4 linked regions of the Homo sapiens genome follow. The protein of the gene in region 2 binds, or shares a complex with, the protein of the main gene of each other region. Each region holds a gene or a part of one and is shown on either strand. Other genes may lie near its edges. The genes, in order: LAGE3, GON7, OSGEP and TPRKB. A codon is read from its position in the direction of its gene.

What was found.
Region 1: the proteins of GON7 (region 2) and LAGE3 are in contact, whole or in part, in a crystal structure (PDB 6GWJ), measured with the Homo sapiens proteins. Residues at the interface, in NP_115879.2 of Homo sapiens: Met1 (codon at 2,972), Glu2 (codon at 2,969), Leu3 (codon at 2,966), Leu4 (codon at 2,963), Gly5 (codon at 2,960), Glu6 (codon at 2,957), Tyr7 (codon at 2,954), Val8 (codon at 2,951), Gly9 (codon at 2,948), Gln10 (codon at 2,945), Leu17 (codon at 2,924), Asp28 (codon at 2,891), Pro29 (codon at 2,888), Phe30 (codon at 2,885), Gln31 (codon at 2,882), Leu33 (codon at 2,876), Leu34 (codon at 2,873), Val37 (codon at 2,864), Met40 (codon at 2,855), Lys41 (codon at 2,852), Val44 (codon at 2,843), Thr45 (codon at 2,840), Leu47 (codon at 2,834), Phe48 (codon at 2,831), Asp49 (codon at 2,828); in NP_006005.2 of Homo sapiens: Pro60 (codon at 5,538), His61 (codon at 5,541), Ile62 (codon at 5,544), Phe63 (codon at 5,547), Thr64 (codon at 5,866), Leu65 (codon at 5,869), Ser66 (codon at 5,872), Val67 (codon at 5,875), Pro68 (codon at 5,878), Phe69 (codon at 5,881), Pro70 (codon at 5,884), Glu74 (codon at 5,896), Arg102 (codon at 5,980), Ile103 (codon at 5,983), Glu111 (codon at 6,231), Cys113 (codon at 6,237), Leu116 (codon at 6,246), Arg117 (codon at 6,249), Val120 (codon at 6,258), Ile121 (codon at 6,261), Leu124 (codon at 6,270), Asp125 (codon at 6,273), Leu127 (codon at 6,279), Ser128 (codon at 6,282), Val131 (codon at 6,291), Arg132 (codon at 6,294), Met134 (codon at 6,300), Gln135 (codon at 6,303).
Region 3: GON7 (region 2) and OSGEP share a complex: the UniProt entries of both Homo sapiens proteins name them as parts of the EKC/KEOPS complex.
Region 4: GON7 (region 2) and TPRKB share a complex: the UniProt entries of both Homo sapiens proteins name them as parts of the EKC/KEOPS complex.

Annotation. Positions count from the first base shown.
Region 1 is NC_000023.11:154,477,247-154,484,275, reverse strand, and holds LAGE3 (EKC/KEOPS complex subunit LAGE3), read left to right. Parts: upstream 1-4,994; 5' UTR 4,995-5,360; coding exon 5,361-5,548; intron 5,549-5,864; coding exon 5,865-5,993; intron 5,994-6,217; coding exon 6,218-6,332; 3' UTR 6,333-6,501; downstream 6,502-7,029. UniProt on the Homo sapiens protein: Component of the EKC/KEOPS complex that is required for the formation of a threonylcarbamoyl group on adenosine at position 37 (t(6)A37) in tRNAs that read codons beginning with adenine.
Region 2 is NC_000014.9:93,204,066-93,211,417, forward strand, and holds the start of GON7 (EKC/KEOPS complex subunit GON7), read right to left. Parts: upstream 3,001-7,352; 5' UTR 2,973-3,000; coding exon 2,765-2,972; intron 1-2,764. Other genes in the region: putative E3 ubiquitin-protein ligase UBR7, read left to right, coding at 3,227-3,376, 5,759-5,892, 6,583-6,643. UniProt on the Homo sapiens protein: Component of the EKC/KEOPS complex that is required for the formation of a threonylcarbamoyl group on adenosine at position 37 (t(6)A37) in tRNAs that read codons beginning with adenine.
Region 3 is NC_000014.9:20,451,797-20,458,625, forward strand, and holds the start of OSGEP (tRNA N6-adenosine threonylcarbamoyltransferase), read right to left. Parts: upstream 3,017-6,829; 5' UTR 2,888-3,016; coding exon 2,773-2,887; intron 653-2,772; coding exon 533-652; intron 354-532; coding exon 178-353; intron 1-177. Other genes in the region: DNA repair nuclease/redox regulator APEX1, read left to right, coding at 3,850-3,907, 4,118-4,305, 4,872-5,064, 5,195-5,712; PIP4P1 (type 1 phosphatidylinositol 4,5-bisphosphate 4-phosphatase), read right to left, coding at 6,763-6,829. UniProt on the Homo sapiens protein: Component of the EKC/KEOPS complex that is required for the formation of a threonylcarbamoyl group on adenosine at position 37 (t(6)A37) in tRNAs that read codons beginning with adenine.
Region 4 is NC_000002.12:73,729,372-73,734,372, reverse strand, and holds the end of TPRKB (EKC/KEOPS complex subunit TPRKB), read left to right. Parts: intron 1-1,668; exon of another isoform or gene 1,669-1,672; coding exon of another isoform or gene 1,673-1,789; intron 1,790-2,087; coding exon 2,088-2,210; intron 2,211-3,636; coding exon 3,637-3,813; intron 3,814-4,343; coding exon 4,344-4,430; 3' UTR 4,431-4,500; downstream 4,501-5,001. UniProt on the Homo sapiens protein: Component of the EKC/KEOPS complex that is required for the formation of a threonylcarbamoyl group on adenosine at position 37 (t(6)A37) in tRNAs that read codons beginning with adenine.

The sequences.
Region 1 (7,029 bases), on a different chromosome or scaffold from region 2:
TTTGAAGAGCACACAGAAGCCCCTGGCCCCCCACGAGAGCTGGAGAGCCATGTATATGGCTTCAAAGCCACCTACGGCAGGGACACACTCGTGAGCATGTGTGGCCTGCAGTTCAGGTGATACATTTACCAGTGTTCTTGTTTGTGTGGTGCCAGGAAATTGATTTTGGAAAAAGTGAAATAACATTAAAGGTGAATGTGAGGCTTCTACTTTTATCCAAAAGGAGCTATATTAGCTAGGCTGTTTCTGATATCCAATCATTGGTTTAACAATAAAGGCAATTTGTTTAATCAGTTAACGGAAATTTCTTGGCTTATGAAAGTGAAAAGTCCAGTGGTATTGGCATTGGCAGCAGGTGAGCAATTTCACCCAGTGTCTTCTGCCTCCCTCTGCGTTGGTATCTGCTACATCCCAGGCCACCACCTCCGAGGATGAAAAGATGGCTGCCTGCAGCTTCCACGGAATCCCTCCCTCACTGCCAGAGCAGCATCTTCTCTGTGTACCACCTCTGCTGTCTCAGATGCCCCCAGCAAATAAACACTCTTCTCGTTGGTCAGAACTGGATTGTGCGTCCAATCATTTTGGCTGGGGTAGGGGGTAATTCTCCGTCAGGGCTGGCTCCCTGGAGCTAGGCATGGGGCCACTTCCCTGGACACACATGGGCTATGCAAGGGACAGAAGGCTCTGGGGGAGGGCTGGATGAATGGATATCCTCAATGGTGGCCGCAAATGGCAGCTGTCCACTACAGGGGCCATGCATGTGTCAGATCAGGGCCACCTCGCAGGTAGTGGAGGAGAGGGCTGGAGGCGTCAAGATCACACAGGGAAAGCGTTTTCTGAGGCTTGGGTTAGGGAAAGCACCAGAGAGAGGAAACACTGCAGGGATGGGAGACAGGAAGTGGGGGGATCGTTAGAGGACACTGGGGATTCTGCATGAAGATGGAGCAGCCACAGGCTGCAGCCCCCCCAATGCTGAGATCCTTTAACAGGGGTCAGAATGTTTACTGCAGGTGCTGCGCCCCTCTGAGCCAATTGTCCGCCCTGAGAGGTAGCACCGAGTCATCCACTGCCCCCTGCCCGGTGAAGGGCCCTGAGACCCACCACCTGCCCCTCAGGGAGGGGCCTCGGGACAGTATCTGAGTCCTGCGGCCATGGTGTGACTACAATGACATCAGGAGATAGCAGCATGAGTGAAGGGCCCAGCTGGGATGAGGTGCTTTTGGTGTCGTTTCCCAAGGGCCCACGGGAGGAAGAGCGGCCTCAGAGGACAGCAGCATTTGCCTTGGGGTGGGGAGGTTCCCTGGCAATGGATCAGCTGGTGTCCCATGTGAGCCTCACCAGCTCCAATAGATCTGCCCGGGCCTGGTACTCCCAGGAGTAGATGCAGCAGAGGTGGCCAGCCTTGAGCCTCCCAGCCCTGAAAAGCCTTCAGGAGAGATGAGAGACACACAGCAACTGCCCTGTCCTCCTCCAGGGCCCAGCTGGAGCGGCCTGCATACACCTTCAGGGCCCCACTGAATGGCCGGCAGTCCTCATTCCTCACCCTCTTCTGCCTTTGCTCTCCCGCTGTTTCCACCACTTGCTCCTACTCAGGCTCTCTTGCTGGTTCTTCACACACACCCCACCCCTCAATGTTGGTGCCCCAGGGCTCTGTCCCTGAGCCCCTTCTCTTCCCTCTGTATCACTCCTCGGGGAGCTCATCCAGCTTGCTTTCTATTTCTGTGCCTCACTGCCATGTCTATGTCTCATCCCGGCCCTCTCTCCTGAGCTCCAGCCCATGTCTTCCAGACAGCGCCTGACTTTGCTGCAGACGACACCCTGCTCATCACTGAGTGCCCCCTTGTGTCCCAGGTGCTGGCAACCCTGAGACTGGAAGACACAGTCCCTTCCCTCTTGGCACTCACGTCCAGCACTGGCCGGCTCCTCAGCACACACGTGTTCTCCACGGCCCGGCTGGAGGACTGGCAATGCCACTCAGCCAGGCTTCTGAGGGAGCAGGAGGCCATCTTTGCCTCTCCCAACTAGCCATTCTCCATAGGCAATCAGGCAAGAATATTTTTGGAAGCATCCAGGGCAGCTGCTACTGTATCCTTTCCTCCTCTGACCACACTCACCCCCAGCCCCTCATCAGGCAGCTGGCAGGGTCAGGCTGCCCCACTGTTGAGGACGCTCAGTTTGATCACGTGATCCAGGTGGCTGCTGCCAGATCTCTCCCCTGTAAAGACGCAGTTTCCCTTCCTGATTCACAAGTAATTTGGGGTAATATTTGGGGACTTTGTGAATATCCTGTCCCCAACAACCTTTCAGCTAATGCTTTTGCCATCCAGCGACAATTCCTTGCCTGAATCGATTTTTTTTTTTTTTTGTGAGACGGAGCCTCACTCTGTCACCCAGGCTGGAGTGCAATGGCGTGGTCTCGGCTCACTGCAATCTCTGCCTCCTGGGTTCAAGAGATTCTCCCGCCTCAGCCTCCTGAGTAGCTGAGACTACAGATGCATGCCACCACAGCCGGCTAATTTTTTTTGTACTTTTAGTAGAGATGGGATTTCACTGTGTTGGCCAGGCTGGTCTCAAACTCCTGACCTCGCAATCCACTCGCCTCGGCCTCCCAAAGTGCTGGAATTACAGGCGTGAGCCACTACACCTGGCCATCCTGAATCAATTATTAAGTTAATAACAATTAATTATTACATTGGTGGTTGCAAAGATGGTAATTTTCTGATAGTTTTTTCTACAGCTATTACTTGCCATTTCCCTATAAAAACCTTTCCTTTATCTCTGCTTTCTTTCCTGAATATCATGGACTTTTTTGTTTGTTTGTTTGATTGAGACAGAGTCTCAGTCTGTTACTTGTGCAGAGTGCAGTGGCTAGATCATAGCTCACTGTAGCCTTGACTTCCTGGGCTCAAGCAATCCTCCTGCGTCAGCCTCTCTGGTAGCTGGGACCGCAGGCACACACTGTCACAGCCGGCTAATTTTTTTTTTTTTTTTTTTGAGACAGAGTTTTGCTCTTGTTGCCCAGGCTGGAGTGCAATGGTGCGATCTGGGCTCACCACAACCTCCACCTCCCGGGTTCAAGCCATTCTCCTGTCTCAGCCTCCCAAATAGCTGGGATAACAAGCTCCTGCCACCACAACTGGCTAATTTTTGTATTTTTAGTAGAGATGGGGTTTCACCATGTTGGTCAGGCTGGTCTGGAACTCCTGACCTCAAGTGATCTGCCTGCCTTGGCCTCCCAAAGTGCTGGGATTACAGGCATGAGCCACTGCGCCCAGCCCCATGCAATTTAAATTAGAAATTAAAAAGTCATTCTGCGGTGTGGTGAATAGGTTGTAGAGGGGAAAGTGTAAAAGAGAATCAGCCAGGAAGCTGTTGAGGGAGGTCAAGGAAAGATGCTGGCTTCCACAGCAGACTAGCAGTGGAGAGCGAGAAGTGGGCTGATGTGGAACCTATTTCAGAGGGAAACCCAACAGGATTTGCTGATATAGTTCAGTGTTTAATCCTTCCTTATGACTGCAAAGGAGGAAAATAGGTTGTCCAAACATGACAAACACTGTTGGAAATTTTATGTCACTTTATTTATTCATTTTTTATTTTTATTATTTTTCTTTTTGAGACAGTCTCCCTCTGTCGCCCAGGCTGGAGTGCAGTGGCGTGATGTCGGCTCACCACAACCTCCACCTCCCGGGTTCAAGTGATTCTTCTGTCCCAGCCTCCCGAATAGCTGGGACTACAGGCGCACACCACGACACGCAGCTAATTTTTGTTATTTTTAGTAGGGCCGGGGGTTTCACCATGTTGGCCAGGATGGTGTTGAACTCCTGACTTCAAGTGATCCACCCGCCTCGGCCTCCCAAAGTACTGGGATTATAGGCGTGAGCCACCGTGCCCGGACTGATGTCACTTTAAATACTTTTTTTTTTATTGTAAATGTCATAAAAGACCACTTCGGAAAAATTGGAGGGAAAACACAAAAAGGAAATTAAAGTCACCCACCATACTATTAGCAGAGATCATGAGGATTTACCTGACGCTGTATTGTTCTAGGATTTCTCTACATATGTACAGTAAGAGACTAAGTTGGCATTTTCTTTTATTTTTTGAGGCGGGGTCTGGCTCTATCAACCAGGCTGGAGTGCGGTGGGGCGATCACGGCTAACTGCAGCCTCTGCCTCCCGGGCTCAGGCTGTCCTCCCATCTCAGCCTCCCTAGTAGCTGGGACCACAGGTGTGCACCATCACACCCAGCTAATTTTTGTATTTTTTGTAGAGGCAGGGTTTCACTATGTTGCCCAGGCTGGTGTCGAACTCCCGGGCTCAAGCAATCAACCCTCCTCAGCCTCCAAGAAGCTATGACTACAGGCACGCTCCACCACTCCCAGCTAACTTTTAAAATTTATTTTTGTATTTTTTGTAGAGACGGGGTCTCACTATGTTGCCTGTGTTTGTCTTGAACTCCTGGGCTCAAGTGATCCTCCTCCCTTGGCCTTCCAAAGTGCTGGGATTCCAAGCGGGGGCCACTTTGCCTGGCCTAAACTGGCATTTTCATACTCATAGTTGTGCAGTCTGATTTTTCACGTTATATTAGACCTAGACCCACCGCCAGTACTTTCATTCAAGGCCCTGTCATTTTTCGCCTCCGTGCAGGCCTCCTGCTGACAGGCTCCCCCGCTCTGCACAGCCCACCCGCTCTAAAATGCTTCCTCTAAAATGCACATCCGATGCTTCACAGTCCATGGTGAAGCCCCGTTGGTTGGGCACTGGGGTTGAGGGCAAGAGCAGTATCCTTGGGGGTTACCCGACCCGGCCACCCTCCCTCTGCGAATCGCAACATGGACGTTGTGCCACATCTCCTGGGGCTCTTGGGTCCAGGTAAGAAACGGGGCGGGAAGCCGTCCAGGCACCGCAGGGCCTCACTGGGGCCTCCAGGGACAAGGGGGAAGGCCCCGCCAGCGCAGGCGCGCTAAGGTCACAAGGCGCGCTTAGGGGCGGAGCCTCGCGGGGTGCGCCTCTGGGATAGGCGACCACGGTGTCTTCAAAAGCCCCGTCAGGGTTGGCTTCCTGGGGCCGGACCGACTGTGGGTCAGTTTGCACCAGCGCTCTGGAATCGAGTTACGCGCGAAAGGGCAGAGTTTCTGGAGGAAACCGCAGCCTCTCAACCGCTGACCGGGTCTCAGAAGGCCCCCGGCAGGGCCGCTTGGCGGGAACTGACCACGCGCCAGTCAGGCTCTCCAGGGACCTGCGCAGGCGCGTGTGGGCGGAGTCGTGCGCAGGGGGCGGGGCTTCGGGAAGGAGCCACAGAGAGGGCGGGGCGTAGGACCTGCGCTTCGGGGGTGGAGTCGGAGCGGCGCGGCGGCGGTCATGCGGGACGCGGATGCAGACGCAGGCGGAGGCGCTGACGGCGGGGATGGCCGGGGTGGCCACAGCTGCCGCGGGGGCGTGGACACAGCCGCAGCTCCGGCCGGTGGAGCTCCCCCAGCGCACGCGCCAGGTCCGGGCAGAGACGCCGCGTCTGCGGCCAGGGGGTCACGAATGCGGCCGCACATATTGTATCCTTTCCGAGCTGGGGGCTGCTTGCGGCGGAGCGAGGGCTGGACTCGGGGAGAAGGAAAGGAGGGCGGGCGGGGGGCCGACGGAAAGGGTAGCAGGGGGGGACCGGGGCTGGCGTATACGGTCAGAGGTGGTCGGAGGAGGGGAAGACATTGAAATGGAGGGAGAAGCTCTGCTAACGGTGGCCTGGGCGAGGTAAGGAGTGAAGGGGGTGACACTAGGCAGGGTGACCTGAGAGGGGGCTTCAGAGGAGCAAGAAGGCCTGAGACATAGGCAAGATCGTATCAGATGGCACCTTAACCGAATGACCCCCAGCACCCTCAGCGTGCCTTTCCCGACCCCCTTGGAGGCGGAAATCGCCCATGGGTCCCTGGCACCAGATGCCGAGCCCCACCAAAGGGTGGTTGGGAAGGATCTCACAGTGAGTGGCAGGATCCTGGTCGTGTAAGTTCTGAAAGGGACGGGGTTGGGGGAGGCGGCCCATGGAGACATGGGGGACATCCAAGGATGAGCCCTAAGGAGCGCCAGGTGCGCTGGGCCGGTCTCTGCCTGAGGGGCTGTGTAATGGCAGGGCTCCCAAGGGTTTGCTATATTGGGTGCCTGAGGGGCAGAGCGAGGGACCAGGAGTTGCCACCTCCAATTTGATTTTCTTTTCCCCTCACTTTTAGCCGCTGGAAAGCTGAAGACTGTCGCCTGCTCCGAATTTCCGTCATCAACTTTCTTGACCAGCTTTCCCTGGTGGTGCGGACCATGCAGCGCTTTGGGCCCCCCGTTTCCCGCTAAGCCTGGCCTGGGCAAATGGAGCGAGGTCCCACTTTGCGTCTCCTTGTAGGCAGTGCGTCCATCCTTCCCTAGGGCAGGAATTCCCACAGTTGCTACTTTCCTGGGAGGGCCTCATGTTTTATCTGGTTCTTAAATGTTTGTTACTACAGAAAATAAAACTGCGCTACTATTCCAAGTCTGAGTTTATTTGCAGCTGGGGCACCTCCCAATATTCTTGTTGTGCTTGGGTTGCTGGGGGGGGGGTTCTAGAATTCAGATATTCAAGGAGTACAAGGAAATTGAAGACAATTTAGGAAATGGAAGAAAATGAAAATCAATTGGGTTCTGTCATTCAGGATTAACTACTGTCAACATTTTGGAATACTTCCTCAGTTTTACAGTTGCACTTACATAGTAAATGTGTAACTGTAATATACACCACATAATATTTGCAAGTTTAGTGTTAAATTTTTTTCCTGATTTTTAAATCTAACATGAGCTTTTTTCCTCTAACGATCAGTGAAGAAAGTGCTGGGGCAATTGACTAGTGTCTGGGGCAAGGAGTTGGCTCCCTGGAAAATACAGTGTCTCCAGCCTTAGGGCTCTTTTATAGATTCTATCAGATTTTCTGAGAGTGAAAAGGAAGAGGTACAACTGCTTTTATTCTCAGAAAACAAGGAAATGGTTTGATCCTTTTGAGTCTTGCTTTGAAGATGTG
Region 2 (7,352 bases):
GCTTACTGCAACCTCCGCCTCCGGGGTTCAAGCGATTCCTCTGTCTCAGCCTCCCAAGTAGCTGGGATTACAGGCACGCGCTACCACGCCCGGCTAATTTTTTGCATTTTAGTAGAGATGGGGTTTCACCATGTTGGCCAAGATGGTCTTGTTCTCCTGACCTCGTGATCCGCCCGCCTCGGCCTCCCAAAGTGCTGGGATTACAGGTATGAACCATTGTGGCTGGCCAAAATCCACTCTTTTAAAAAGTGTACGGCCTAGTGGTTTTTAGTATATTCACTAGCTTGTGCAACCATCACCTAGAACACTTTCATCACTCCAAAGAGAAATGATATGCCCATTAGCAGTCGCTTTCCATTCCCCTCAGCCTTCGGCAACCACTAATCTACTTTTTTTCCCCCTTATTAGAGATAGGGTCTTGCTATGTTGCCCAGCTAGACTCAAACTCCCAGGTTCAAGTGATCCTCCTGTCTCAGCCTCTAGAGTAGCTGGGACTACAGGTGCCCACCACTGCACCTGGCTCACTAATCTACTCTATCTCTATGGATTTGCCTATTCTGTACATTCATATAAACAAAATCATGCAACATGTACCCTTTTGTGTCTGGCTCTCACTTAGCATAATGTTTTCAAGGTTCATTCATGTTGTAGCACATGTTAATACTTCATTACTTTTTATTGCTAATAATAGTCCATTGTATGGATATACCACATTTTGTTAATGCACTCATCGGTTGATGGATATTTGCATTATTTCTATTTTTTAAAATTATCATTTTTAGAGATGAAGAGATGAGGCCTCACTCTGTCCTCCAGGCTGGAGTGCAGTGGAGCAATCAGCCCACTGCAGCTTCAAACTCTTGGGTTCACATGATCCTCCCACCTCCTAAAGGCGCAACACCAAGCCCAGCCAATTGTTGTTTCCACGTTTTAGCTACTATAAATGCTGCTGTTATCAACATTCATGCGTAAGTTTTTGTGTGAACATACGTTTCCAGTTTTCTTGGGAGGACTACCAGTGGAACTGCTGGGTCATATGGTAACTTCATGTCAACTTTTTGAGGAGCTACCAAACTCTTTTTCCCAGTGGTTACACTGTTTTACATTTCCACCAACAATGTACAAGGTCTCCAATTTCTTCACATTCCAGCCAACACTTGTTATTGTTCTTTTTGATTATAGCCAACATCCATATTATCAAGATGTATTTCCCAAGATGGAAGGAAAGTACAGTTTAAGCTCTTCTTACATAATTGTAAATCCTGACTCTAATATCTAGTTCTTGGGTTTTTCAGCTCAGGACGGTTAAAATGTACCTGCCTGGCCAGGTGTGGTGGCTCACGCCTGTAATCCCAGCACTCTGGGAGGCTGAGGCGGGTGGATCACGAGGTCAGGAGTTCGGGACCAGCCTGGCCAACACAGTGAAACCCTGTCTCTACTAAAAATACAAAATTAGCTGGGAGTGGGGGCGGGTGCCTGTAATCCCAGTTACTCCGGAGGCTGAGACAGGAGAATCGCTTGAACCGGGGAGGGAGAGGTTGCAGTGAGCCAAGGTTGTGCCACTGCACTCAAGCCTGAGTGACAGAGCTAGACTCCATCTCAAAAAAAAAAAAAAGTACCTGCCTATTTCTGCATTCGAGGCAATTTTTTAAAAATAATGCAGTTAAACTTCATGTTTCTACTTTCAAACTGCACCTACAAAACTGGAAAGGCAAGGGAGTCTCTGGGAGTTAATACGTGATAAAATGAAGTCTGTCCCAGTCTTTGGAACCTGTTCCTACTCTGCGATAGATTGTACTCTTCCAAGTATGTCTGTAGTTTCACACCTGATAAAACTCCTTTTTATTCAACACCCAGCTCAAAAGTCTTATCCTTTCTGAAGACTTCCTAGGGTGTCTGGGTTTGCAACAGTTACAGAGGACCACAGAACCACTTTCACTTTTTTTTTCTTTTTTTTTGAGACGGAGTCTCGCTCTGTCGCCCACGATAGAGTGCAGTGGCGCGATCTCGGCTCACTGCACCCTCTGCCTCCAGGGTTCAAGCGATTCTTCTGCCTCAGCCTCCCGAGTAGAGTAGCTGGGACTACAGGAGCATGCCACCACGCCCAGCTAATTTTTGTATTTTTAGTAGAGACAGGGTTTCACCATATTGGCCAGGCTTGTCTCGAACTCCTGACCTCGTGATCTGCCTGCCTCGGTCTCCCAAAGTGCAGGGATTACAGGCGTGAGCCACCAGCCCGGACCACTTCCACTTTTAATAAGAGTGTCTGCCTGTCTAGTCCCCTTGTGTTTCACAAGGGCAGGAACTGAGTCGCATTCACCTCATTCTTCCTCCAGGGCTCAGCTCAGGGTTTGGCACATAATAGTAGGCATTCGACACGTTTTTTTGTGAAATAAACGAAATAGCGATGAGTTGTGGAAACGCTTGAGTAGAAGCAGCCCAAATAAATATAGTGATAAATGCCAACAATTTTTATTTTTTAAATTATTTTAAAAATAATAATAGAAACGGGGTCTCGATATGTTGCCCTGGCTGTTCTGGAACTCCTGACCTCAAGTGATCCTCCTGCCTCGCCCTCCCAAAGTGCTGGGATTACAGGCGTGAGCCCCACTTCGCCTAGCCCGCCAAAAATTTTTAGATGCAATTCTTCTTTCCTCGAGGCTCACTTTGTCCAAGTCTGCCACTCTACACGGGCTCCCCAAGCCAATTTCCCCTGGGCGCCCGCCCCGTCCTCCGGTCACTGCAGCACCGTCTCAGAGCTCACCGTCCAAGTCCTCGTCTGGAGCCGCCGCCACCCGGTGCTGCACTTCCCCCTGTACCAGAGGGTCGAATAATTCCGTTACCATGTCCTTCATCTGGGCCACGCCAGACAACAGGCCCTGGAAAGGGTCGCCGTCACCCGGCGCCTCACAGGACACCCGCAGCTTCTGCGGCTTCCCTTCCTGCCCGACGTACTCTCCCAGCAGCTCCATGGTGACCGCTAAGCTTCCAGAACACGACACCGGGAAGCGCCACCCGGAGGCGGAAATCAGCCCGCGTCCGGCGCAGGCGGGAGAAGGGAGAGGAGTGACATCCGTTTGTCGGAAGTCGCTCCTCCCCCTTCCTTCGCTTTTTTTCCTTGTCATTGGTTCCTGGCACTCGGGCCCCACCTCCTCCGGCTACGCCCCTCACGGCCGCTTTTCCCGCCTCCGCCGGGGCCGAGCCGCTGTTCGGCTGACAGTTGAGGATGGCCGGAGCCGAGGGCGCCGCTGGGCGGCAGTCGGAGCTGGAGCCCGTGGTATCGTTGGTCGACGTCCTTGAGGAGGACGAGGAGCTGGAGAATGAGGCGTGCGCTGTCCTGGGCGGCAGCGACTCCGAGAAGTGCTCCTACTCTCAGGTGGGCGCGCGGCCCGGGCCTCCTCTCCCCCGGCTCCCGCCGAACCTCCCCTTCCCGGCCCGGCTGTCCCTATTCCCGCCTTGCCGCAGTCGTCTCCCCAGTGGTGGTCCGGGGCCGCCGTTAGTCTGCCGCTTCCTCACCCCAAGCTCACCCTTCCCTTTTAACCCCAACCTCCTGGGCCCCCTTCAGCCTGTGTCCAGCAGGGGCCCCCCTCTCCCCTGTCTCCAACTCTGTCCGGCCCGCCAGGAAGGGCCCTGGAGCAGCTGCTCTGTCCGTCCTCTCCAGCCTCTTCTTGGTGCACCACTGCTTTTCACGAAACCACCCCGCGACCTCTCAGATCCAGACATCTTTGTCCCTGATTTTCCCATCCTAAGATTATTTATTTATTTATTTATTAGGGACCGAATGGGAGAGTCAGGTTAAAGAGATTTTCAAATCCATAGGGATTTGCGGTGAGCTCCTTGACAGCTAGTTCCTCTGCAATTTAGTTGGACAAGTGCTAGCTAGTACTTTTTCTTTCTTTCTTTTTTTGGCAAAATGAAGCAAGTACCCATGTCTATCTGCAGTCTGCCCCCCTCCCCTGGAAATAGACCGGAAACAGAACAGCAAGTGGCTCTGGCAAGGGAGGGGAGAGAGGAGAAAAGGATCTGTTTGGCATTTGGAAGACGTTGTGAGTGAGCAAGTGTTTGAGGGGGTGTGATGTGGTGTTTAGTGACTCACCCTACACTTCGAGGTACAAAAATGGAAAAGGATGGGTAGGAAGAAGACTGACAAAGGATGAGAATTGGTAGGAAGAAGGGTTACCTAGGAAGAGGGGTGGATTGGAACACTGGGGAGATGAGGGGAGAGACTTGTATTCATTATGTGGTATGAACTGAGATCATAATACCAGTTCTCGTTGTTGACCAAGGTTAGTTTACACTGCAAAGTGCTAGATTGTTGAATAAACCTGGTATCCAGACATAGCCCCAGGTATTTTAAAACCTTTGGTCACCACTAAAACAATTTTTCCCCTGCTTTACTTAAAAAAAAAAAAAAGAAAAAAGTTATGTCTATATGTAAACTATTTTTGAAGTGTAGTTACCTTTATAAAATGGATTCCTTAATATTTTCTTTGTGGTAAAAAAAAAAATACGGAAATTTGCACAAATCATGTACACAGCTTGAAAGGAAAGTGTGCGTGTTCCCACAACCCAGATCAACAAATAGAACATTAGGAGTGCAAAAGGCTTATTGGAATAGAACTTTAAAAAAAAAAGAAAGAAAAAGAAATAGAACCTTACTGGCATCCCGGAAGCCTCCTTATCTATCTTCCTCCTTCCTAGAGGAAGGTAACTATACCTCTTATACATATTCACTTTTTTTTTCTTTTTGAGATGGAATTTCACTCTTGCCACCCAGGCTGGAGTGCAATGTCATGATCTCTGCTCACTGCAACCTCCACCTCCTGGGTTCAAGTGATTCTCCTGTCTTAGCCTCCCAAGTAGCTGGGATAACAGGCGCCCGCCATCACGTCCAGCTAATTTTTGTATTTTTAGTGGATGGGGTGTTCTAGAGATGAGGTTTTCACCACGTTGACCAGGTTGGTCTTGAACTCCTGACCTCAAGTGATCTGCCCACCTCGGCCTCCCAAAGTGCTGGGATTACAGGCGTGAGCCACCGTGCCCAGCCTACATATTCACTTTTTAACATTTTGTCACATTTGTTTTATCTCCTTTTCTACTTAAAATTTGCTGTTTTAAAATTTTGAACTATTTAAAAATAAGTTGCAGACACGATGACACTATACCTCTAAATACTTCAGCAGGCATCTCCTAAAAATCAAAGGGATTCTTTGCATGTGTTGATTCTTTCTTTGGTAGATTTACAAACATTTTCCAGGATGAAAGTGTGATGTTACTTACATAAACCTGTACATATGCTCCTGTGTTTTCACATATTAAAATGATTAAACAGATCCATTTATTCACAGCTGATTGACAAATTCAGACTTCCTATCACTTTAAGAAAGAAGTGCTGGCTTGTGTCGTGGCTAATGCTTGTAATCCCAGCACTTTGGAAGGCCAAGGCAGAGAATTGCTTGAGCCCAGGAGTTTGAGACCAGCCTGGGCAACATAGCAAGACCTTATCTCTGCAAAAAATAAATAAGGAAGAAAGAAAAAAGTGCTTGCATGAAAAAAAGCACTAGTATAAAAATGAAACTTGCAACGCAACTGTGTTTTGGTTGATGCTCTGTTGTGTAAACTTTTTAGTCTTAATGGTTTTTACAGAAAGATCTTGACCACAGATAATCTGATTTTAATTATTTTTCAGTTCCTAGTGTGGGTATTAGGTAAACCATGCTACTACATTAATTCTCTTTTCCATTTTGGGGGCTTTCAGGGCTCAGTAAAGAGACAAGCACTATATGCCTGTAGTACCTGCACCCCAGAGGGAGAAGAACCAGCAGGAATTTGTTTAGCTTGCAGTTATGAATGTCATGGAAGTCACAAACTATTTGAGCTATACACAAAAAGGTAAACATAGTCAAGAGATTGTTACTAAATGCTTTTGAAGTATAGATTCTTTCCCATCTACACTTTTTCCTAATCTTGTTTTTTCATGCAAAGCAGTTGAACACTAATGAAATTAATTAATTAATTTATTTATTTATTTATTTTGAGACGGAGTCTTGCTCTGTCACCCAGGCTGGAGTGCAGTGGTGTGATCTAGGCTCACTGCAAGCTCCGTCTCCCGGGTTCACGCCATTCTCCTGCCTCAGCCTCCCGAATAGCTGGGATTAAAGGCTCCCACCACCACGCCCAGCTAATTTTTTGTATTTTTAGTAGAGACGGTGTTTCACCGAGTTAGCCAGGATGGTCTCGATCTCCTGACCTCGTGATCCGCCCGCCTCAGCCTCCCAAAGTGCTGGGATTACAGGCGTGAGCCACCTCGCCCAGCACTAATGAAATTTAATGTAATTATTTTATATAATTGGAGAGAGTTGTTTCTAGAGCCTTTAAAAACATAATATGGTACAAACTCAAACCATTTATCTTTCCCTGCCATCATTTTACTTGTGTGTTTGTATGTGATATAAATATTTGCTTTTGTACATATTAATTTCCCGAATTGTGAAGTCTTACTATGTGCTTGAATGCTTGAAGAAATTTTAAATTGGATTTTGTAAAAAGAAAAATAAAATTGTTATTTCCTCCTTTTTTCAGAAATTTTCGTTGTGATTGTGGAAACAGCAAGTTTAAAAATTTGGAATGCAAATTACTTCCTGTAAGTAAGCACTGTAACTATAAATGCATTTAGAGCAGCTGAGGTTAATATTTGCCAGAGTGGGTAAAAAAACAAATACCTGTATTTTCCAAAAAAAGAAGTTCTTATGCTTATTCTTTGCAGATGGCCATTTCATTTTTTACTTTGTTAGAAAAACTATATAAACTGTTGAGAGCCTACAAGATAGATGGTAATTAATATGAAAGGTTTGGGGGAGAGATGTACTTGAAAGTAATTCAGGTTTAATTATATTGGTTGTACTTATTCTCTGAGGCTTTTAAATCAGCGGATATGACTTAAAAACAATAAATAGGGTCAAGAGATCGAGACCATCCTGGCCAACATGGTGAAACCCTGTCTCTACTAAAAATACAAAAATTAGCTGGGCATGGTGGCACCCAGTCATCTACTCGGTCAGCTACTTGGGAGGCTGAGGCAGGAGAATTGCTTGAACCCAGGAGGCGGAGGTTGCAGTGAGCCGAGATTGCGCCACTGCACTCCAGCTGGCAACAGAGCAAGACTCCATCTCAAAACAAACAAACAAAAACAATAAATAGGCCGGGCACGGTGGCTCACACCTGTAATCCTAGCACTTTGGGAGGCCGAGGCAGGTGGATCACTTGAGGTCAGGAGTTCAAAACCAGCTTGGCCATCATGGTGAAACCCCCCCGTACTAAAAATACAAAAAATTATCTGGGCATGGTGGTGC
Region 3 (6,829 bases), about 73 Mb from region 2:
CATGCTGCCAAAATTTGCAATGTTACAAACTCTGTTGGGGGTTTTCTGGTCTACAGTATTTTAGGTTCAGATAAGTCCATCTTTGTTCCTGACATTCCCATGACTCAGATAGAACAAAGAAAATACTGGTTCAGTGCCTCAGAAATTGAGATGGAGTGGGTAGAGCCCTCTAAATACCTGCGTATTTCCTCCACTCACATACAACACGGTTGGGCTGGTGGCTCCAGTGATGAGGCGGCCCATCTCAATGTGGCCTATACAGTGGTTCACACCCACCAATGGCTTATTCCACAGTTGGGCCACAGTACGGGCCACAACAGCCACAGAAACCAGTGGGGCACCCATGCCAGGGCCTAGGGAGATAGAAATGGAAGTTATAATCCTAGAGATTGGAAAAAAACAATAGTGGGGGACATAAGGGATGTGAGGTGGGGTAGGGGTAGTGATGGTGGCAGAGGTAAGGTGTTGGCTATTTTGACCTAGCCAGGTTGCAGGTATATTCCTCCATCGTTGACCACTCTCCCAGCCATACCCTTGGTGTATGCAATGCAGTCGATATCCTGGGAGGTTAATCCAGACTCTGTTAGTGCCTCCTGCAGCAGGTCTAGGATAACAGCTCGGTGATGCCTGGCTGTATCACCTGGAAGGAATCCTAGAAAATGAACATAGGTCAGAGATCACAGGGATTTTCTGTAGCAAAGGTAGGTAGGAAGTTAAAGAAAGCAACAGGAGTTTTAGTGATGTAGTAAGAGTCCTTTCACTTTCCCCAAGCATCCTATCTTCCACATTTTCACATCTACTCTTTCCGGCTTCTATATAGGCTATTCAACTTTCAGAAATGCTCTTCTTCTTACCCTACTCAGCCTTCAGGTCTCAATGCAAGTAGTATCTACCTCATACCCTTTCGTGATCTTTTTTTTTTTTTTTTCTTTTGAGACAGTCTCAGCTCTGTCACCCAGGCTGGAGTGCAGTGGCACGATCTCGGCTCACTGCAACCTCCACCTCCTGAGTTCAAGAGATTCTTCTGCCTCAGCCTCCTGAGTAGCTGGGACTACAGGCGACACCACCACGCTCAGCTAACTTTTGTATTTTTAGTAGAGACGGGGTTTCACCATATTGGCCAGGCTGGTCTCGAACTCCTGACCTCGTGATCCGTCTGCCTCGGCCTCCCAAAGTGCTGGGATTACAGGCCTGAGCCACCGTGCCTGGCCTTTGGTGATCTTCTTTCTCTGTGACCCTACAGAACTCTATGCATGATGATGTCATTTATTTAACATAACAATTACAGCATTATAATTTTCTGTGGTTTGCTCAGCTTAATCATGAATATCTCAAAGCATTGAGTATTTTATTTATCTTTGTATTCCCAGTGCCCAAGTGCCCAGAGGAGTGAATGCTAAACATACATATATATTTCTAGTGAGTATCTGTCACAACATCACCTGTTCAGGGAGGCTTTTCAGATACATGCAAGTCAGCTGCCCTCTCCTATGTATGCAAGTGTTTGAGGGGAGAGTAGCAAGATATAATAGCTTATTTAAAATATCAATTAAAAGTTGTAATGTGTTTTGTACTTTTTTTTTTTTTGAGACAGAGTTTCACTCTTGATGCCCAGGCTGGAGTGCAATGGCACCATCTCGGCTCACTGCAACCTCTGTCTCCCGGGTTCACGCAATTCTCCTGCCTCAGCCTCCCAAGTAGCTGGGTTTACAGGCATGCGCCACCACGCCCAGTTAATTTTTTGTATTTTTTAGTGGAAACATGGTTTCTCCATGTTGGTCAGGCTGGTCTCGAACCCCGACCTCAGGTGATCTGCCTGCCTTGGCCTCCCAAAGTGCTGGGATTACAGGCGTGAGCCACCACGCCCAGCCGTGTTTGGTACTTTCATCTAATCTTCAAGACCTAATGATACAGGTATTATTCCCATTTTAAAAACAAAGACCAGGCCCGAGCGGTGGCTCATGCCTGTAATTTCCACACTTTGGGAGGCTGGGGTGGGCGGATCATCTGAGGTCAGGAGTTCGAGACCAGCTTGGCCTGGTGGAAACCCCGACTCTACTAAAAATACAAAATTTAGCTGGATGTGGTGGCGCACACCTATAGTCCTAGCTACTTGGGAGGCTGGGGTAGAAGAATCGCTTGAACCTGGAAGGCAGAGATTGCAGTGAGCCGAGATCGTGCCACTGCATTCCAGCCTGGGCGACAGAGCAAGACTCTGTCTCAAAAAAATAAAATAAAATAAAAAATAAAGACCAAATGTCCAAAACAAAAATATTTAATATGAATATAGCAAAGCCAGCCAGTTCTGTCTGACATGTAAGCCGGGAGTCTTTCCACTCTCATCTCTCTACTCATCCTAGAATATTTCAAAAAATAATTTTTTTTTAAAAAGGGAGTGTATATTCAGGGCAACTGGAATCTATACTCCTGCTAAGCGTTTTTTAAACAGAATATTTCGAGTCCATCTCTATTATACTGTTTATCATGCTGTAGTATAAACATCTATTTATATGTCTGACTCCACAGCAGTATAACATCTATTTCTGAATACTTAGCACATAAAATGCGCTCAGTAAAAGGTAAATGAACTCATCAGATCCACGTCCAAGTGCCTGTAACTCTTCTAGTCATCAGCCTTGTGACGTTAATAATGTCACATAATTTCAATGAGACTCGGATCGAAAGCTGCACCTCACTAGTATTTAGGAAGATGGAAGGCTGATTCTGTGCGGGGAAGTGCGCGGAAAACTCTTAAGTCCCCTACTCACCAACCTGTGCCAGGAGGCGTGACGTAAGTCCGCCGCGGGTTCGCCAGCACCTTGCCATCCCGCACCACGCCCACGCCAATCTTATTGGCGCTGCCTTCAAAACCCAGCACCGCCGGCATGGCGGAGGCTGGGAGAAAACGCCGACAGGACTCCTGGCAATGTCAGGAGCTGTGGAGGTCCTCACTAGTCCGCGCTGGGCCGCAGCTTTCCGGAGCGCAGAGGAAGCTGGCCAGCCTGCAGATAGCACTGGGAAAGACACCGCGGAACTCCCGCGAGCGGAGACCCGCCAAGGCCCCTCCAGGGACCTGTCTTCCTAACTGCCAGGGACGCCGAGCCAACTCTGTGCCTTACATTCGTATCCGTTTTCCTATCTCTTTCCCGTGGTCCAGCCCAGCCTTCTCCACTGTTTTTTTCCCTCTTGCACATAGTTAGAATCTTAAGTCAGTGTCACACAATGTGCTGTGCATCTGGCACAACGATAAACAGCCCGAGGGAGGGTTGGGGACCTAAGTGTCCTAGAGAATTAGAGGAGGGAGGCGAGGCTAAGCGTCTCCGTCACGTGGTGTCAGACAGACCAATCACGCGCATTCTTCGGCCACGACAAGCGCGCCTCTGATCACGTGACCAGGTCCGCTACCCACGTGGGGGCTCAGCGTGCACCCTTCTTTGTGCTCGGGTTAGGAGGAGCTAGGCTGCCATCGGGCCGGTGCAGATACGGGGTTGCTCTTTTGCTCATAAGAGGGGCTTCGCTGGCAGTCTGAACGGCAAGCTTGAGTCAGGACCCTTAATTAAGATCCTCAATTGGCTGGAGGGCAGATCTCGCGAGTAGGGTACAAGGCACTATGAAATGATCTAGTTTCGTGGGTGAGGGGCTGAAGGGCCTATGATGCACGGAGGCGGGGAAAGGATTTAGAGATAACGTGGTTTGAAAGGCGGGACCTGGTGCGGGGACGCTCTTGGGAGGAGTCTTCTCCCCAGCCTTAGCTGGTTTCATGATTTCTTTGCGTCTGTAGGCAACGCGGTAAAAATATTGCTTCGGTGGGTGACGCGGTACAGCTGCCCAAGGGCGTTCGTAACGGGAATGCCGAAGCGTGGGAAAAAGGGAGCGGTGGCGGAAGACGGGGATGAGCTCAGGACAGGTAAGGGAATGAAATCAGCCCTTCTTCCTAGAAGCTGCGGCGGGGGTGTTTGTCATTCCCTTGATGTACGGTAAGTACGGGCCGACTCATTTTTGCAGGGGTTTGTGAAGAAGTCGCAGGAACCGTAGGCTTTCGTTGGGTCTATAGTTAACGCCGGATCGCAGTTGGAAACCACCAGCTTTTTGTCAGTATATATTACTCATTTTATAGAGCCAGAGGCCAAGAAGAGTAAGACGGCCGCAAAGAAAAATGACAAAGAGGCAGCAGGAGAGGGCCCAGCCCTGTATGAGGACCCCCCAGATCAGAAAACCTCACCCAGTGGCAAACCTGCCACACTCAAGATCTGCTCTTGGAATGTGGATGGGCTTCGAGCCTGGATTAAGAAGAAAGGATTAGATGTGAGTGGAATTTGAGGGAAAGAGACATTTTTTAGTATTGAATGGTCTTAGGGTTTAGTCACCCCTTTTCTCCGTTTAGCCTTCAGGCTGTTTTATTTTTCTCCTGCCCGTAGTTTTCTGTGGGGCTTCCCCAGTCTTGCCAGTTGTATTTCCTAAATGTCTGTTCCTTCACTTCCATTGCCATTTTCTTTTTTAGTGTTCTCTCCTCTTCCCAGAATGTTGCAAAAACCTCTTCACTATACTTCCTCCATTTTATCTTCCTGCATTGCATTCCATATGAAGCATGTCCTCCATTCCATTAACCATAGCTTAAAAATCTTAGCTTGCTATCCACTGCCTATAGAAAAAACACATCTCCTTGGCATAGCATGTAAGACTTTCTTACCTCTCTATATTTGTTTTCATTTATCTAGCTTAGAATTGTTTGAATATTGTGCTGCTTGACTCGAACTCCTTAGGCCAAGAGACTGTTTAACCCGTGCGTATCTATGACTTAGCATATAGATTATTCAATAAATGTTCTGCTGAATTGATAATACGTTTTCCACCTTTCTTTTCACTTACAGTGGGTAAAGGAAGAAGCCCCAGATATACTGTGCCTTCAAGAGACCAAATGTTCAGAGAACAAACTACCAGCTGAACTTCAGGAGCTGCCTGGACTCTCTCATCAATACTGGTCAGCTCCTTCGGACAAGGAAGGGTACAGTGGCGTGGGCCTGCTTTCCCGCCAGTGCCCACTCAAAGTTTCTTACGGCATAGGTGAGACCCTATTGATGCCTAATGCCTGAACTCTTCAAAACCAATTGCTAATTCTCTATCTCTGCCCCACCTCTTGATTGCTTTCCCTTTTCTTATAGTTTTTTATGCTAATTCTGTTTCATTTCTATAGGCGATGAGGAGCATGATCAGGAAGGCCGGGTGATTGTGGCTGAATTTGACTCGTTTGTGCTGGTAACAGCATATGTACCTAATGCAGGCCGAGGTCTGGTACGACTGGAGTACCGGCAGCGCTGGGATGAAGCCTTTCGCAAGTTCCTGAAGGGCCTGGCTTCCCGAAAGCCCCTTGTGCTGTGTGGAGACCTCAATGTGGCACATGAAGAAATTGACCTTCGCAACCCCAAGGGGAACAAAAAGAATGCTGGCTTCACGCCACAAGAGCGCCAAGGCTTCGGGGAATTACTGCAGGCTGTGCCACTGGCTGACAGCTTTAGGCACCTCTACCCCAACACACCCTATGCCTACACCTTTTGGACTTATATGATGAATGCTCGATCCAAGAATGTTGGTTGGCGCCTTGATTACTTTTTGTTGTCCCACTCTCTGTTACCTGCATTGTGTGACAGCAAGATCCGTTCCAAGGCCCTCGGCAGTGATCACTGTCCTATCACCCTATACCTAGCACTGTGACACCACCCCTAAATCACTTTGAGCCTGGGAAATAAGCCCCCTCAACTACCATTCCTTCTTTAAACACTCTTCAGAGAAATCTGCATTCTATTTCTCATGTATAAAACTAGGAATCCTCCAACCAGGCTCCTGTGATAGAGTTCTTTTAAGCCCAAGATTTTTTATTTGAGGGTTTTTTGTTTTTTAAAAAAAAATTGAACAAAGACTACTAATGACTTTGTTTGAATTATCCACATGAAAATAAAGAGCCATAGTTTCAGCCTTGCTGTCTTCGTGTCTTACCCCTTCGTGGGGCTACACATTCTCTTCCTCATATTTTCATGCACACAAGTTAACAACTGAAAAAGCGTAGAGTCATGACCTTATTTATTTACAAGCACAGGATAAGTCCCTAACCTCCCCCAAAGACTGAGCAACCCTACCCAGCCCAGTTAAATACTGCAACTGGGGGGGTAAAAAAGGTCGGGAGGAGGAATTAAGGGAAATACAGGAATAGGGGAACATATCCCACATTAAATAGTTATATACACATCAGTTCCTGTGGTTCTGTACAGAGCAGCGGCTGACCCCACCCCCACAGGACACAATGTGGGGAGAGGAGACTGAGGGTACTGAGGCCAGAGCCAACCTCTGGTGAAGTGCAATAGCAGCAGCAAAGTCCTAATGGTGCACAAGAGGGAGGGGAACCCCCAGGGCTACCCACCCCCACCCTGCCCTGGAATGTGTAAGGGACAGGAATGGCTCTCAGGGAGCACACAGGAAGGACAAGGCTGGAACCGTCTTCAGGGCCCAGTTTTAAGGGCAACGTTTTGCCTACTTCACCCTAGACACAGCAACCCTTGGAGGAAAGCAGATGGTCAGCAGTGCTCTTATCTGCCCCTCCAAACCTAAGTGAGGGCCTGGTTCCTTCCTACCTCTCCCCAGGGAAAAGGAAGGCAGCTGCTTGGCTTCCTTCTAGAAGCCCCGGGAGCCTTTAACTACCCCAGCTCCCTTCGTAGTGTCACTGTCCCCACCAGGGAGGGGCCAGGCACAGTCTGTGGGTCATCAGGCTCAGGAGAAGTTCTGGACAGGGTGGCTGACCTTCATACAGGCCCAATAAAGAGCCCGGCCCAAACAC
Region 4 (5,001 bases), on a different chromosome or scaffold from region 2:
AATGCCAGCACTTTAGGAGGCCGAGGCGGGTGGATCATCTGAGGTCAGGAGTTGAAGACCAGCCTGGCCAACATGGTGAAACCCTGTCTCAACTAAAAATACAAAAATTAGCTGGGCGTGGTGGCGGGCGCCTATAATCCCAGCTACTCGGGAGGCTGAGGCAGGAAAATCATTTGAACCCTGGAGGCAGAGGTTGCAGTGAGCCAAGATTGCGCCATTGCACTCCAGCCTGGGCGACGAGCAAAACTCTGTCTGGAAAAAAAAAATGGCCAGGCATGGTAGCTCACGCCTGTAATCCCAGCCCTTTGGGAGGCCGAGGCAGGCAGATCATGAGGTCAGGAGTTTGAGACCAGCCTGGCCAATATGGTGAAACCCTGTCTCTACTAAAAATACAAAAATTAGCTGAGCATGGTGGTGGGCACCTGTACTCAGGAGACTGAGGCAGGAGAATCGCTTGAGCCTGGGAGGCAGAGGTTGCAGTGAGCCGAGATTGTGCCACTGCACTCCAGCCTGGGCAACAGACCAAGAATCCGCCTCAAAAAAAAAAAAAAAAAAAAAGAATGAATGAGCCATACAGGGCATTTAAGTATACATTAATATTTGTGATGTTATAGGGTAGCCTAAAAATCTGTCACGGTTAGGGAAAAAATTCTTGTCCAAGTCAGATGCAGCCAACTTTGACTATAACAGTGAATAGAGGCAGAAGTGCCAGGTCCTGCCCTAGGAAATAGGAAAGGTTGTGGTCTGGGTCTAATATGGGAAATGCCTGGATCTCCAGCTTCTCATCTTTAAAATGGGGGTTCCTAACAAGACAGTCTGTAGAGGAGGAATAGTGTAGTGGTTAAGAGTACACACAGAGGCCAAGGTGGGTGGATTGCTTGAGGCCCGGAGTTTGAGACCAGCCTGGCCTACATAGTGAAACCGTGTCTCTACTAAAAATACAAAAAGTAGCTGGGTGTGGTGGTGTGTGCTGGTAGTCCCAGCTACTCGGGAGGCTGAGGCACAAGAATCATTTGAACCTGGGAGGCGGAGGTTACAGTGAATTGAGATTGAGCCACTGCATTCCAGCCTGGGCAATGGAGCGAGAGACTCTGTCTGTCTCCAAAAAAAAAAAAAAACAAAAAAACAGGGCACACGCAGTGCGATCATGTTACCGGGAATTAATCCCAGACCTACTACTTAGGCCTTTGAACAAGACATAACCAACCTTTATATAGTGCTTACTGCATTCCTAGCATTGTTCCAAGTGCTTTACGTATACTAACTTGCTTAATCTTCACAACAGCCTATGGAGTGAATACTGTTTCATCGGTCTCTAACAAATAAAATGCTAATGAACTTGCATAAGTTTCCTAGGTGATAGGTGACAGAGATGGGATTCAAACCCAGACATTCTTTGCCTCAATTTCCTCATCAATTACATACTACTACTACTGCTACTACTACTAATAATAGTGTCAATTTCATAGGGTAGTTTTGAGGATTAAAGAAAATATTACAAGTAAAATGTTTGCAATATGATCATGCCCATAATATTAGCCCTCAATTAATGTTATTTAAAAAAATTTTACTATTTGCATAAGTTCCTTGCAGCTTTAAAATTCTGTGATTTCCTGACTACCCAGGCCCTTGGGATAATAGTTGTTTTTTGTTTTTTTTTTTTTTGAGACAGTTTCACTCTTGTTGCCCAGGCTGGAGTGCAATGGCGCGATCTTGGCTCACGGCAACCTCTGCCTCCCGGGTTCAAGCAATTGTCCTGCCTCAGCCTCCTGAGTTGCTGGGATTACAGGTGCGTGCCACCACGCCTGACTAATTTTTGTATTTTTAGTAGAGAGGGTTTCGCCGTGTTGGCCAGGCTGGTCTTGAACCCTGACGTCAGGTGATCTACCCACCTTGGCCTCCCAAAGTGCTAGGATTACAGGTGTGAGCCACCGTGCCCAGCCGGGATAATAGTTTTGAAAATACAGACCGTAAGAATTGTGATGAAGTAAAACAGCTTGACACTGGAGTTAACCATGAGTTACCATGTGTTTTCAGGCACTGCAGATTCTCCATGTGTAATTAATTCTTTTTCCTTGCTTTGGTAGATTGTTGATCCATTTCAGATACTTGTGGCAGCAAACAAAGCAGTTCACCTCTACAAACTGGGAAAAATGAAGACAAGAACTCTATCTACTGAAATTATTTTCAACCTTTCCCCAAATAACAATGTAATGTGCACTTTCCTATTTCTGTTGACCGTGTCATAATAACATATGTGTTCCTCAGTGTTGGGTTGGAGGCTAAATTCCTGCAAGCCAGTGGTTAGTAATAAACCCAAATAATAGTGAAGAGAGCTCTGGACAGAGAGTTGAGGTTTAACCCTGCCTCTTACTAAGACAGTTTACATATGAGTAAACAAAAATTTAGCTAAATTAAGCGAGGTTAATTTTATCTGTTCTTACCATATAGGGTCAGGAAGACCCCTCAAGTATTTTTGCTTGAGAAGCTGACAGAAATCTAAATGATAAAACATTAGGCGTGGATATTTTGTGTGCTAGCCTGCATATCATTCTCTCTTCCCGTAAACTCCTTGAGGGTGGGATCCATGTCTTTTTCATATACCAGGAACTTGCTTGTACCTATAACAGTCCTTAACACAGCCTCACTCACACACCCAGTACATAGGTAGAGTTTGTGGTTTGAAATACTTATAGTAATGCTTTTTCAATGAAAGTTATCAAGCTAAAGACATCACACATGTAGCACATGAAAAAAATGACTGCAATTTTGCTGATGAAGTTTTAGTATTACTGCTGCTGTTAATAACAACCAGGTACTAATGTCATCTACAGGAAACCTGTAGCATAGGTTAAAATACAGATGATTGACAAGTTTATAAAATGCAGTTATCTCAGCATGGTAATAGAGATTCCCAGTACCTGGAATAAAATTTACTAATTATGGTTTCCTTGAGATCATTAGACATAATTCAGAAAACTCTTGAATTCAGTAAACATCTGTTGAACTTTTTCCCCGTTCCATTTACAGTTCTAGGGGCAGAAGAGGCAAATATGTTCCTGAGGAGAGGCAGATAAACAAGACAAGTTAAAATGCCCTAAGATAAATGATATAATGGGAAAATGAATTCAAATCTAGGGGTACAGCAATGAAGCCATTCATTTTGGAGGGAGGAGGGTGTGGTGGGGAGTGGCATCAGAACTGTGGACCCTGAAGCATGTGTTCAGCAGCCAAGCCATGAGGAGAAGGGACATGCGAGCAGAGGACAAAGCTTGAGCACAGGCAGAAGGGCATGAAATGTGACTGGATCCCCAGGCAGGCTGGACTGGCCAGAAGGCAGAAGCGCCTGGCTGGAGGGCCACTTGGCACCAGAGGGAGGAGGTGTTTTTGTGCAGCGCCAAGAGGCTGGGCTTGATTCCATAGGAACAAGGCGTACCTTTAAGCAGGGAGTGCTTTTGAGGAAGTGCCAATGGATGTTGGAAAGGAATCATTAAAGTGAAAAAGTAGGCAGTGAGAACTGTTAGGACATGAAAAATAAGAGCCTGACCAAGGAAGAAGGCAGATCAGGAAATGTTTCAGACGTAGGAAACAATGGTTAATGATCTTGTGTTTTTTTTTTCATTTTTTTTCTCTTAGATTTCAGAGGCTTTGAAAAAATTTGGTATCTCAGCAAATGACACTTCAATTCTAATTGTTTACATTGAAGAGGGAGAAAAACAAATAAATCAAGAATACCTAATATCTCAAGTAGAAGGTCATCAGGTTTCTCTGAAAAATCTTCCTGAAATAATGAATATTACAGAAGTCAAAAAGGTTTGCCAGTCCATATTTTTAGAAAGAGTGTGATAGATGAGCAATAATGCTGATGCCGTTTGCCTATTGATCACCAGAGCTCCTTGTTTTTTGAACTTTTGAGAAAGTTAATCTAATTTTAAAAATTACTTAAAAATTACAGATACAAAGAACTGGGAGGTGTGATGGTTTATGTAAAATATAATTACAAACTCAGCTGACATAACCATTCTCCACATTAAGAAAGAGAATACCTTTAAATATCAAACTTACATAGTATATTTAAAATGTAAAATAAATTTAGTATGCTTTTAAAATGGATAGAAATTTGGTTTTTATGTTCTTGAGAGTTACTCCCATAGCAGCAATTTAAAGGGGATACAAGTAATGAATTGCCCTCTACTTTGAATATTTTAATCACATTTGTTGTTTGTTATACCATGAACCCAATAATTGAATGAGGAATAATTTCACTTACACATGTTTGTATAATGACAATTAGTAGTGAATGACGATATCAGCAAGTCATAATTTGTCTTTCATTTTTACAGATATATAAACTCTCTTCACAAGAAGAAAGTATTGGGACATTATTGGATGCTATCATTTGTAGAATGTCAACAAAAGATGTTTTATGAAATGTCAGAAATATTAACAAAAATTCTCAGCATTAAAGAAAACATTGATTTTCCTTTCCTGACTATAAAACTAATTGTGCATTATAGAAAAGTTTAAATCACAGAATGGTATTAAAAAAAAAAAAAAAAGGCCAGGCACGGTGGCTCACGCCTGAAATCCCAGCAATTTGGGAGGCCAAGGCAGGTGGATCACCTGAGGTCAGGAGTTCAAGACCAGCCTGGCTAACATGGTGAAACCCCATCTCTACTAAAATACAAAAATTAGCTGGGCATGATGGCAGGTGCCTGTAATCCCAGCTATTCGGGAGGCTGAGACAGGAGAATCGCATGAACCTGGGAGGCACAGGTTGCAGTGAGCTGAGATCGTGCCATAGCACTCCAGCCTGGGCAGCTGAGCGAGACTCCGTCTCAAAAAAAAAAACCAAAAAAAAAAAAAACAAAAAAACCACTTGTAGTCCTACCTCGTTGTATTTTAAAAGATAATCAGTTACTATTACTTGTTATTGCCTTCTAGAGTTCTGTTTCTATTCAAATATATTTTATTTTTATATAATTAGAATAAAAATTGCAA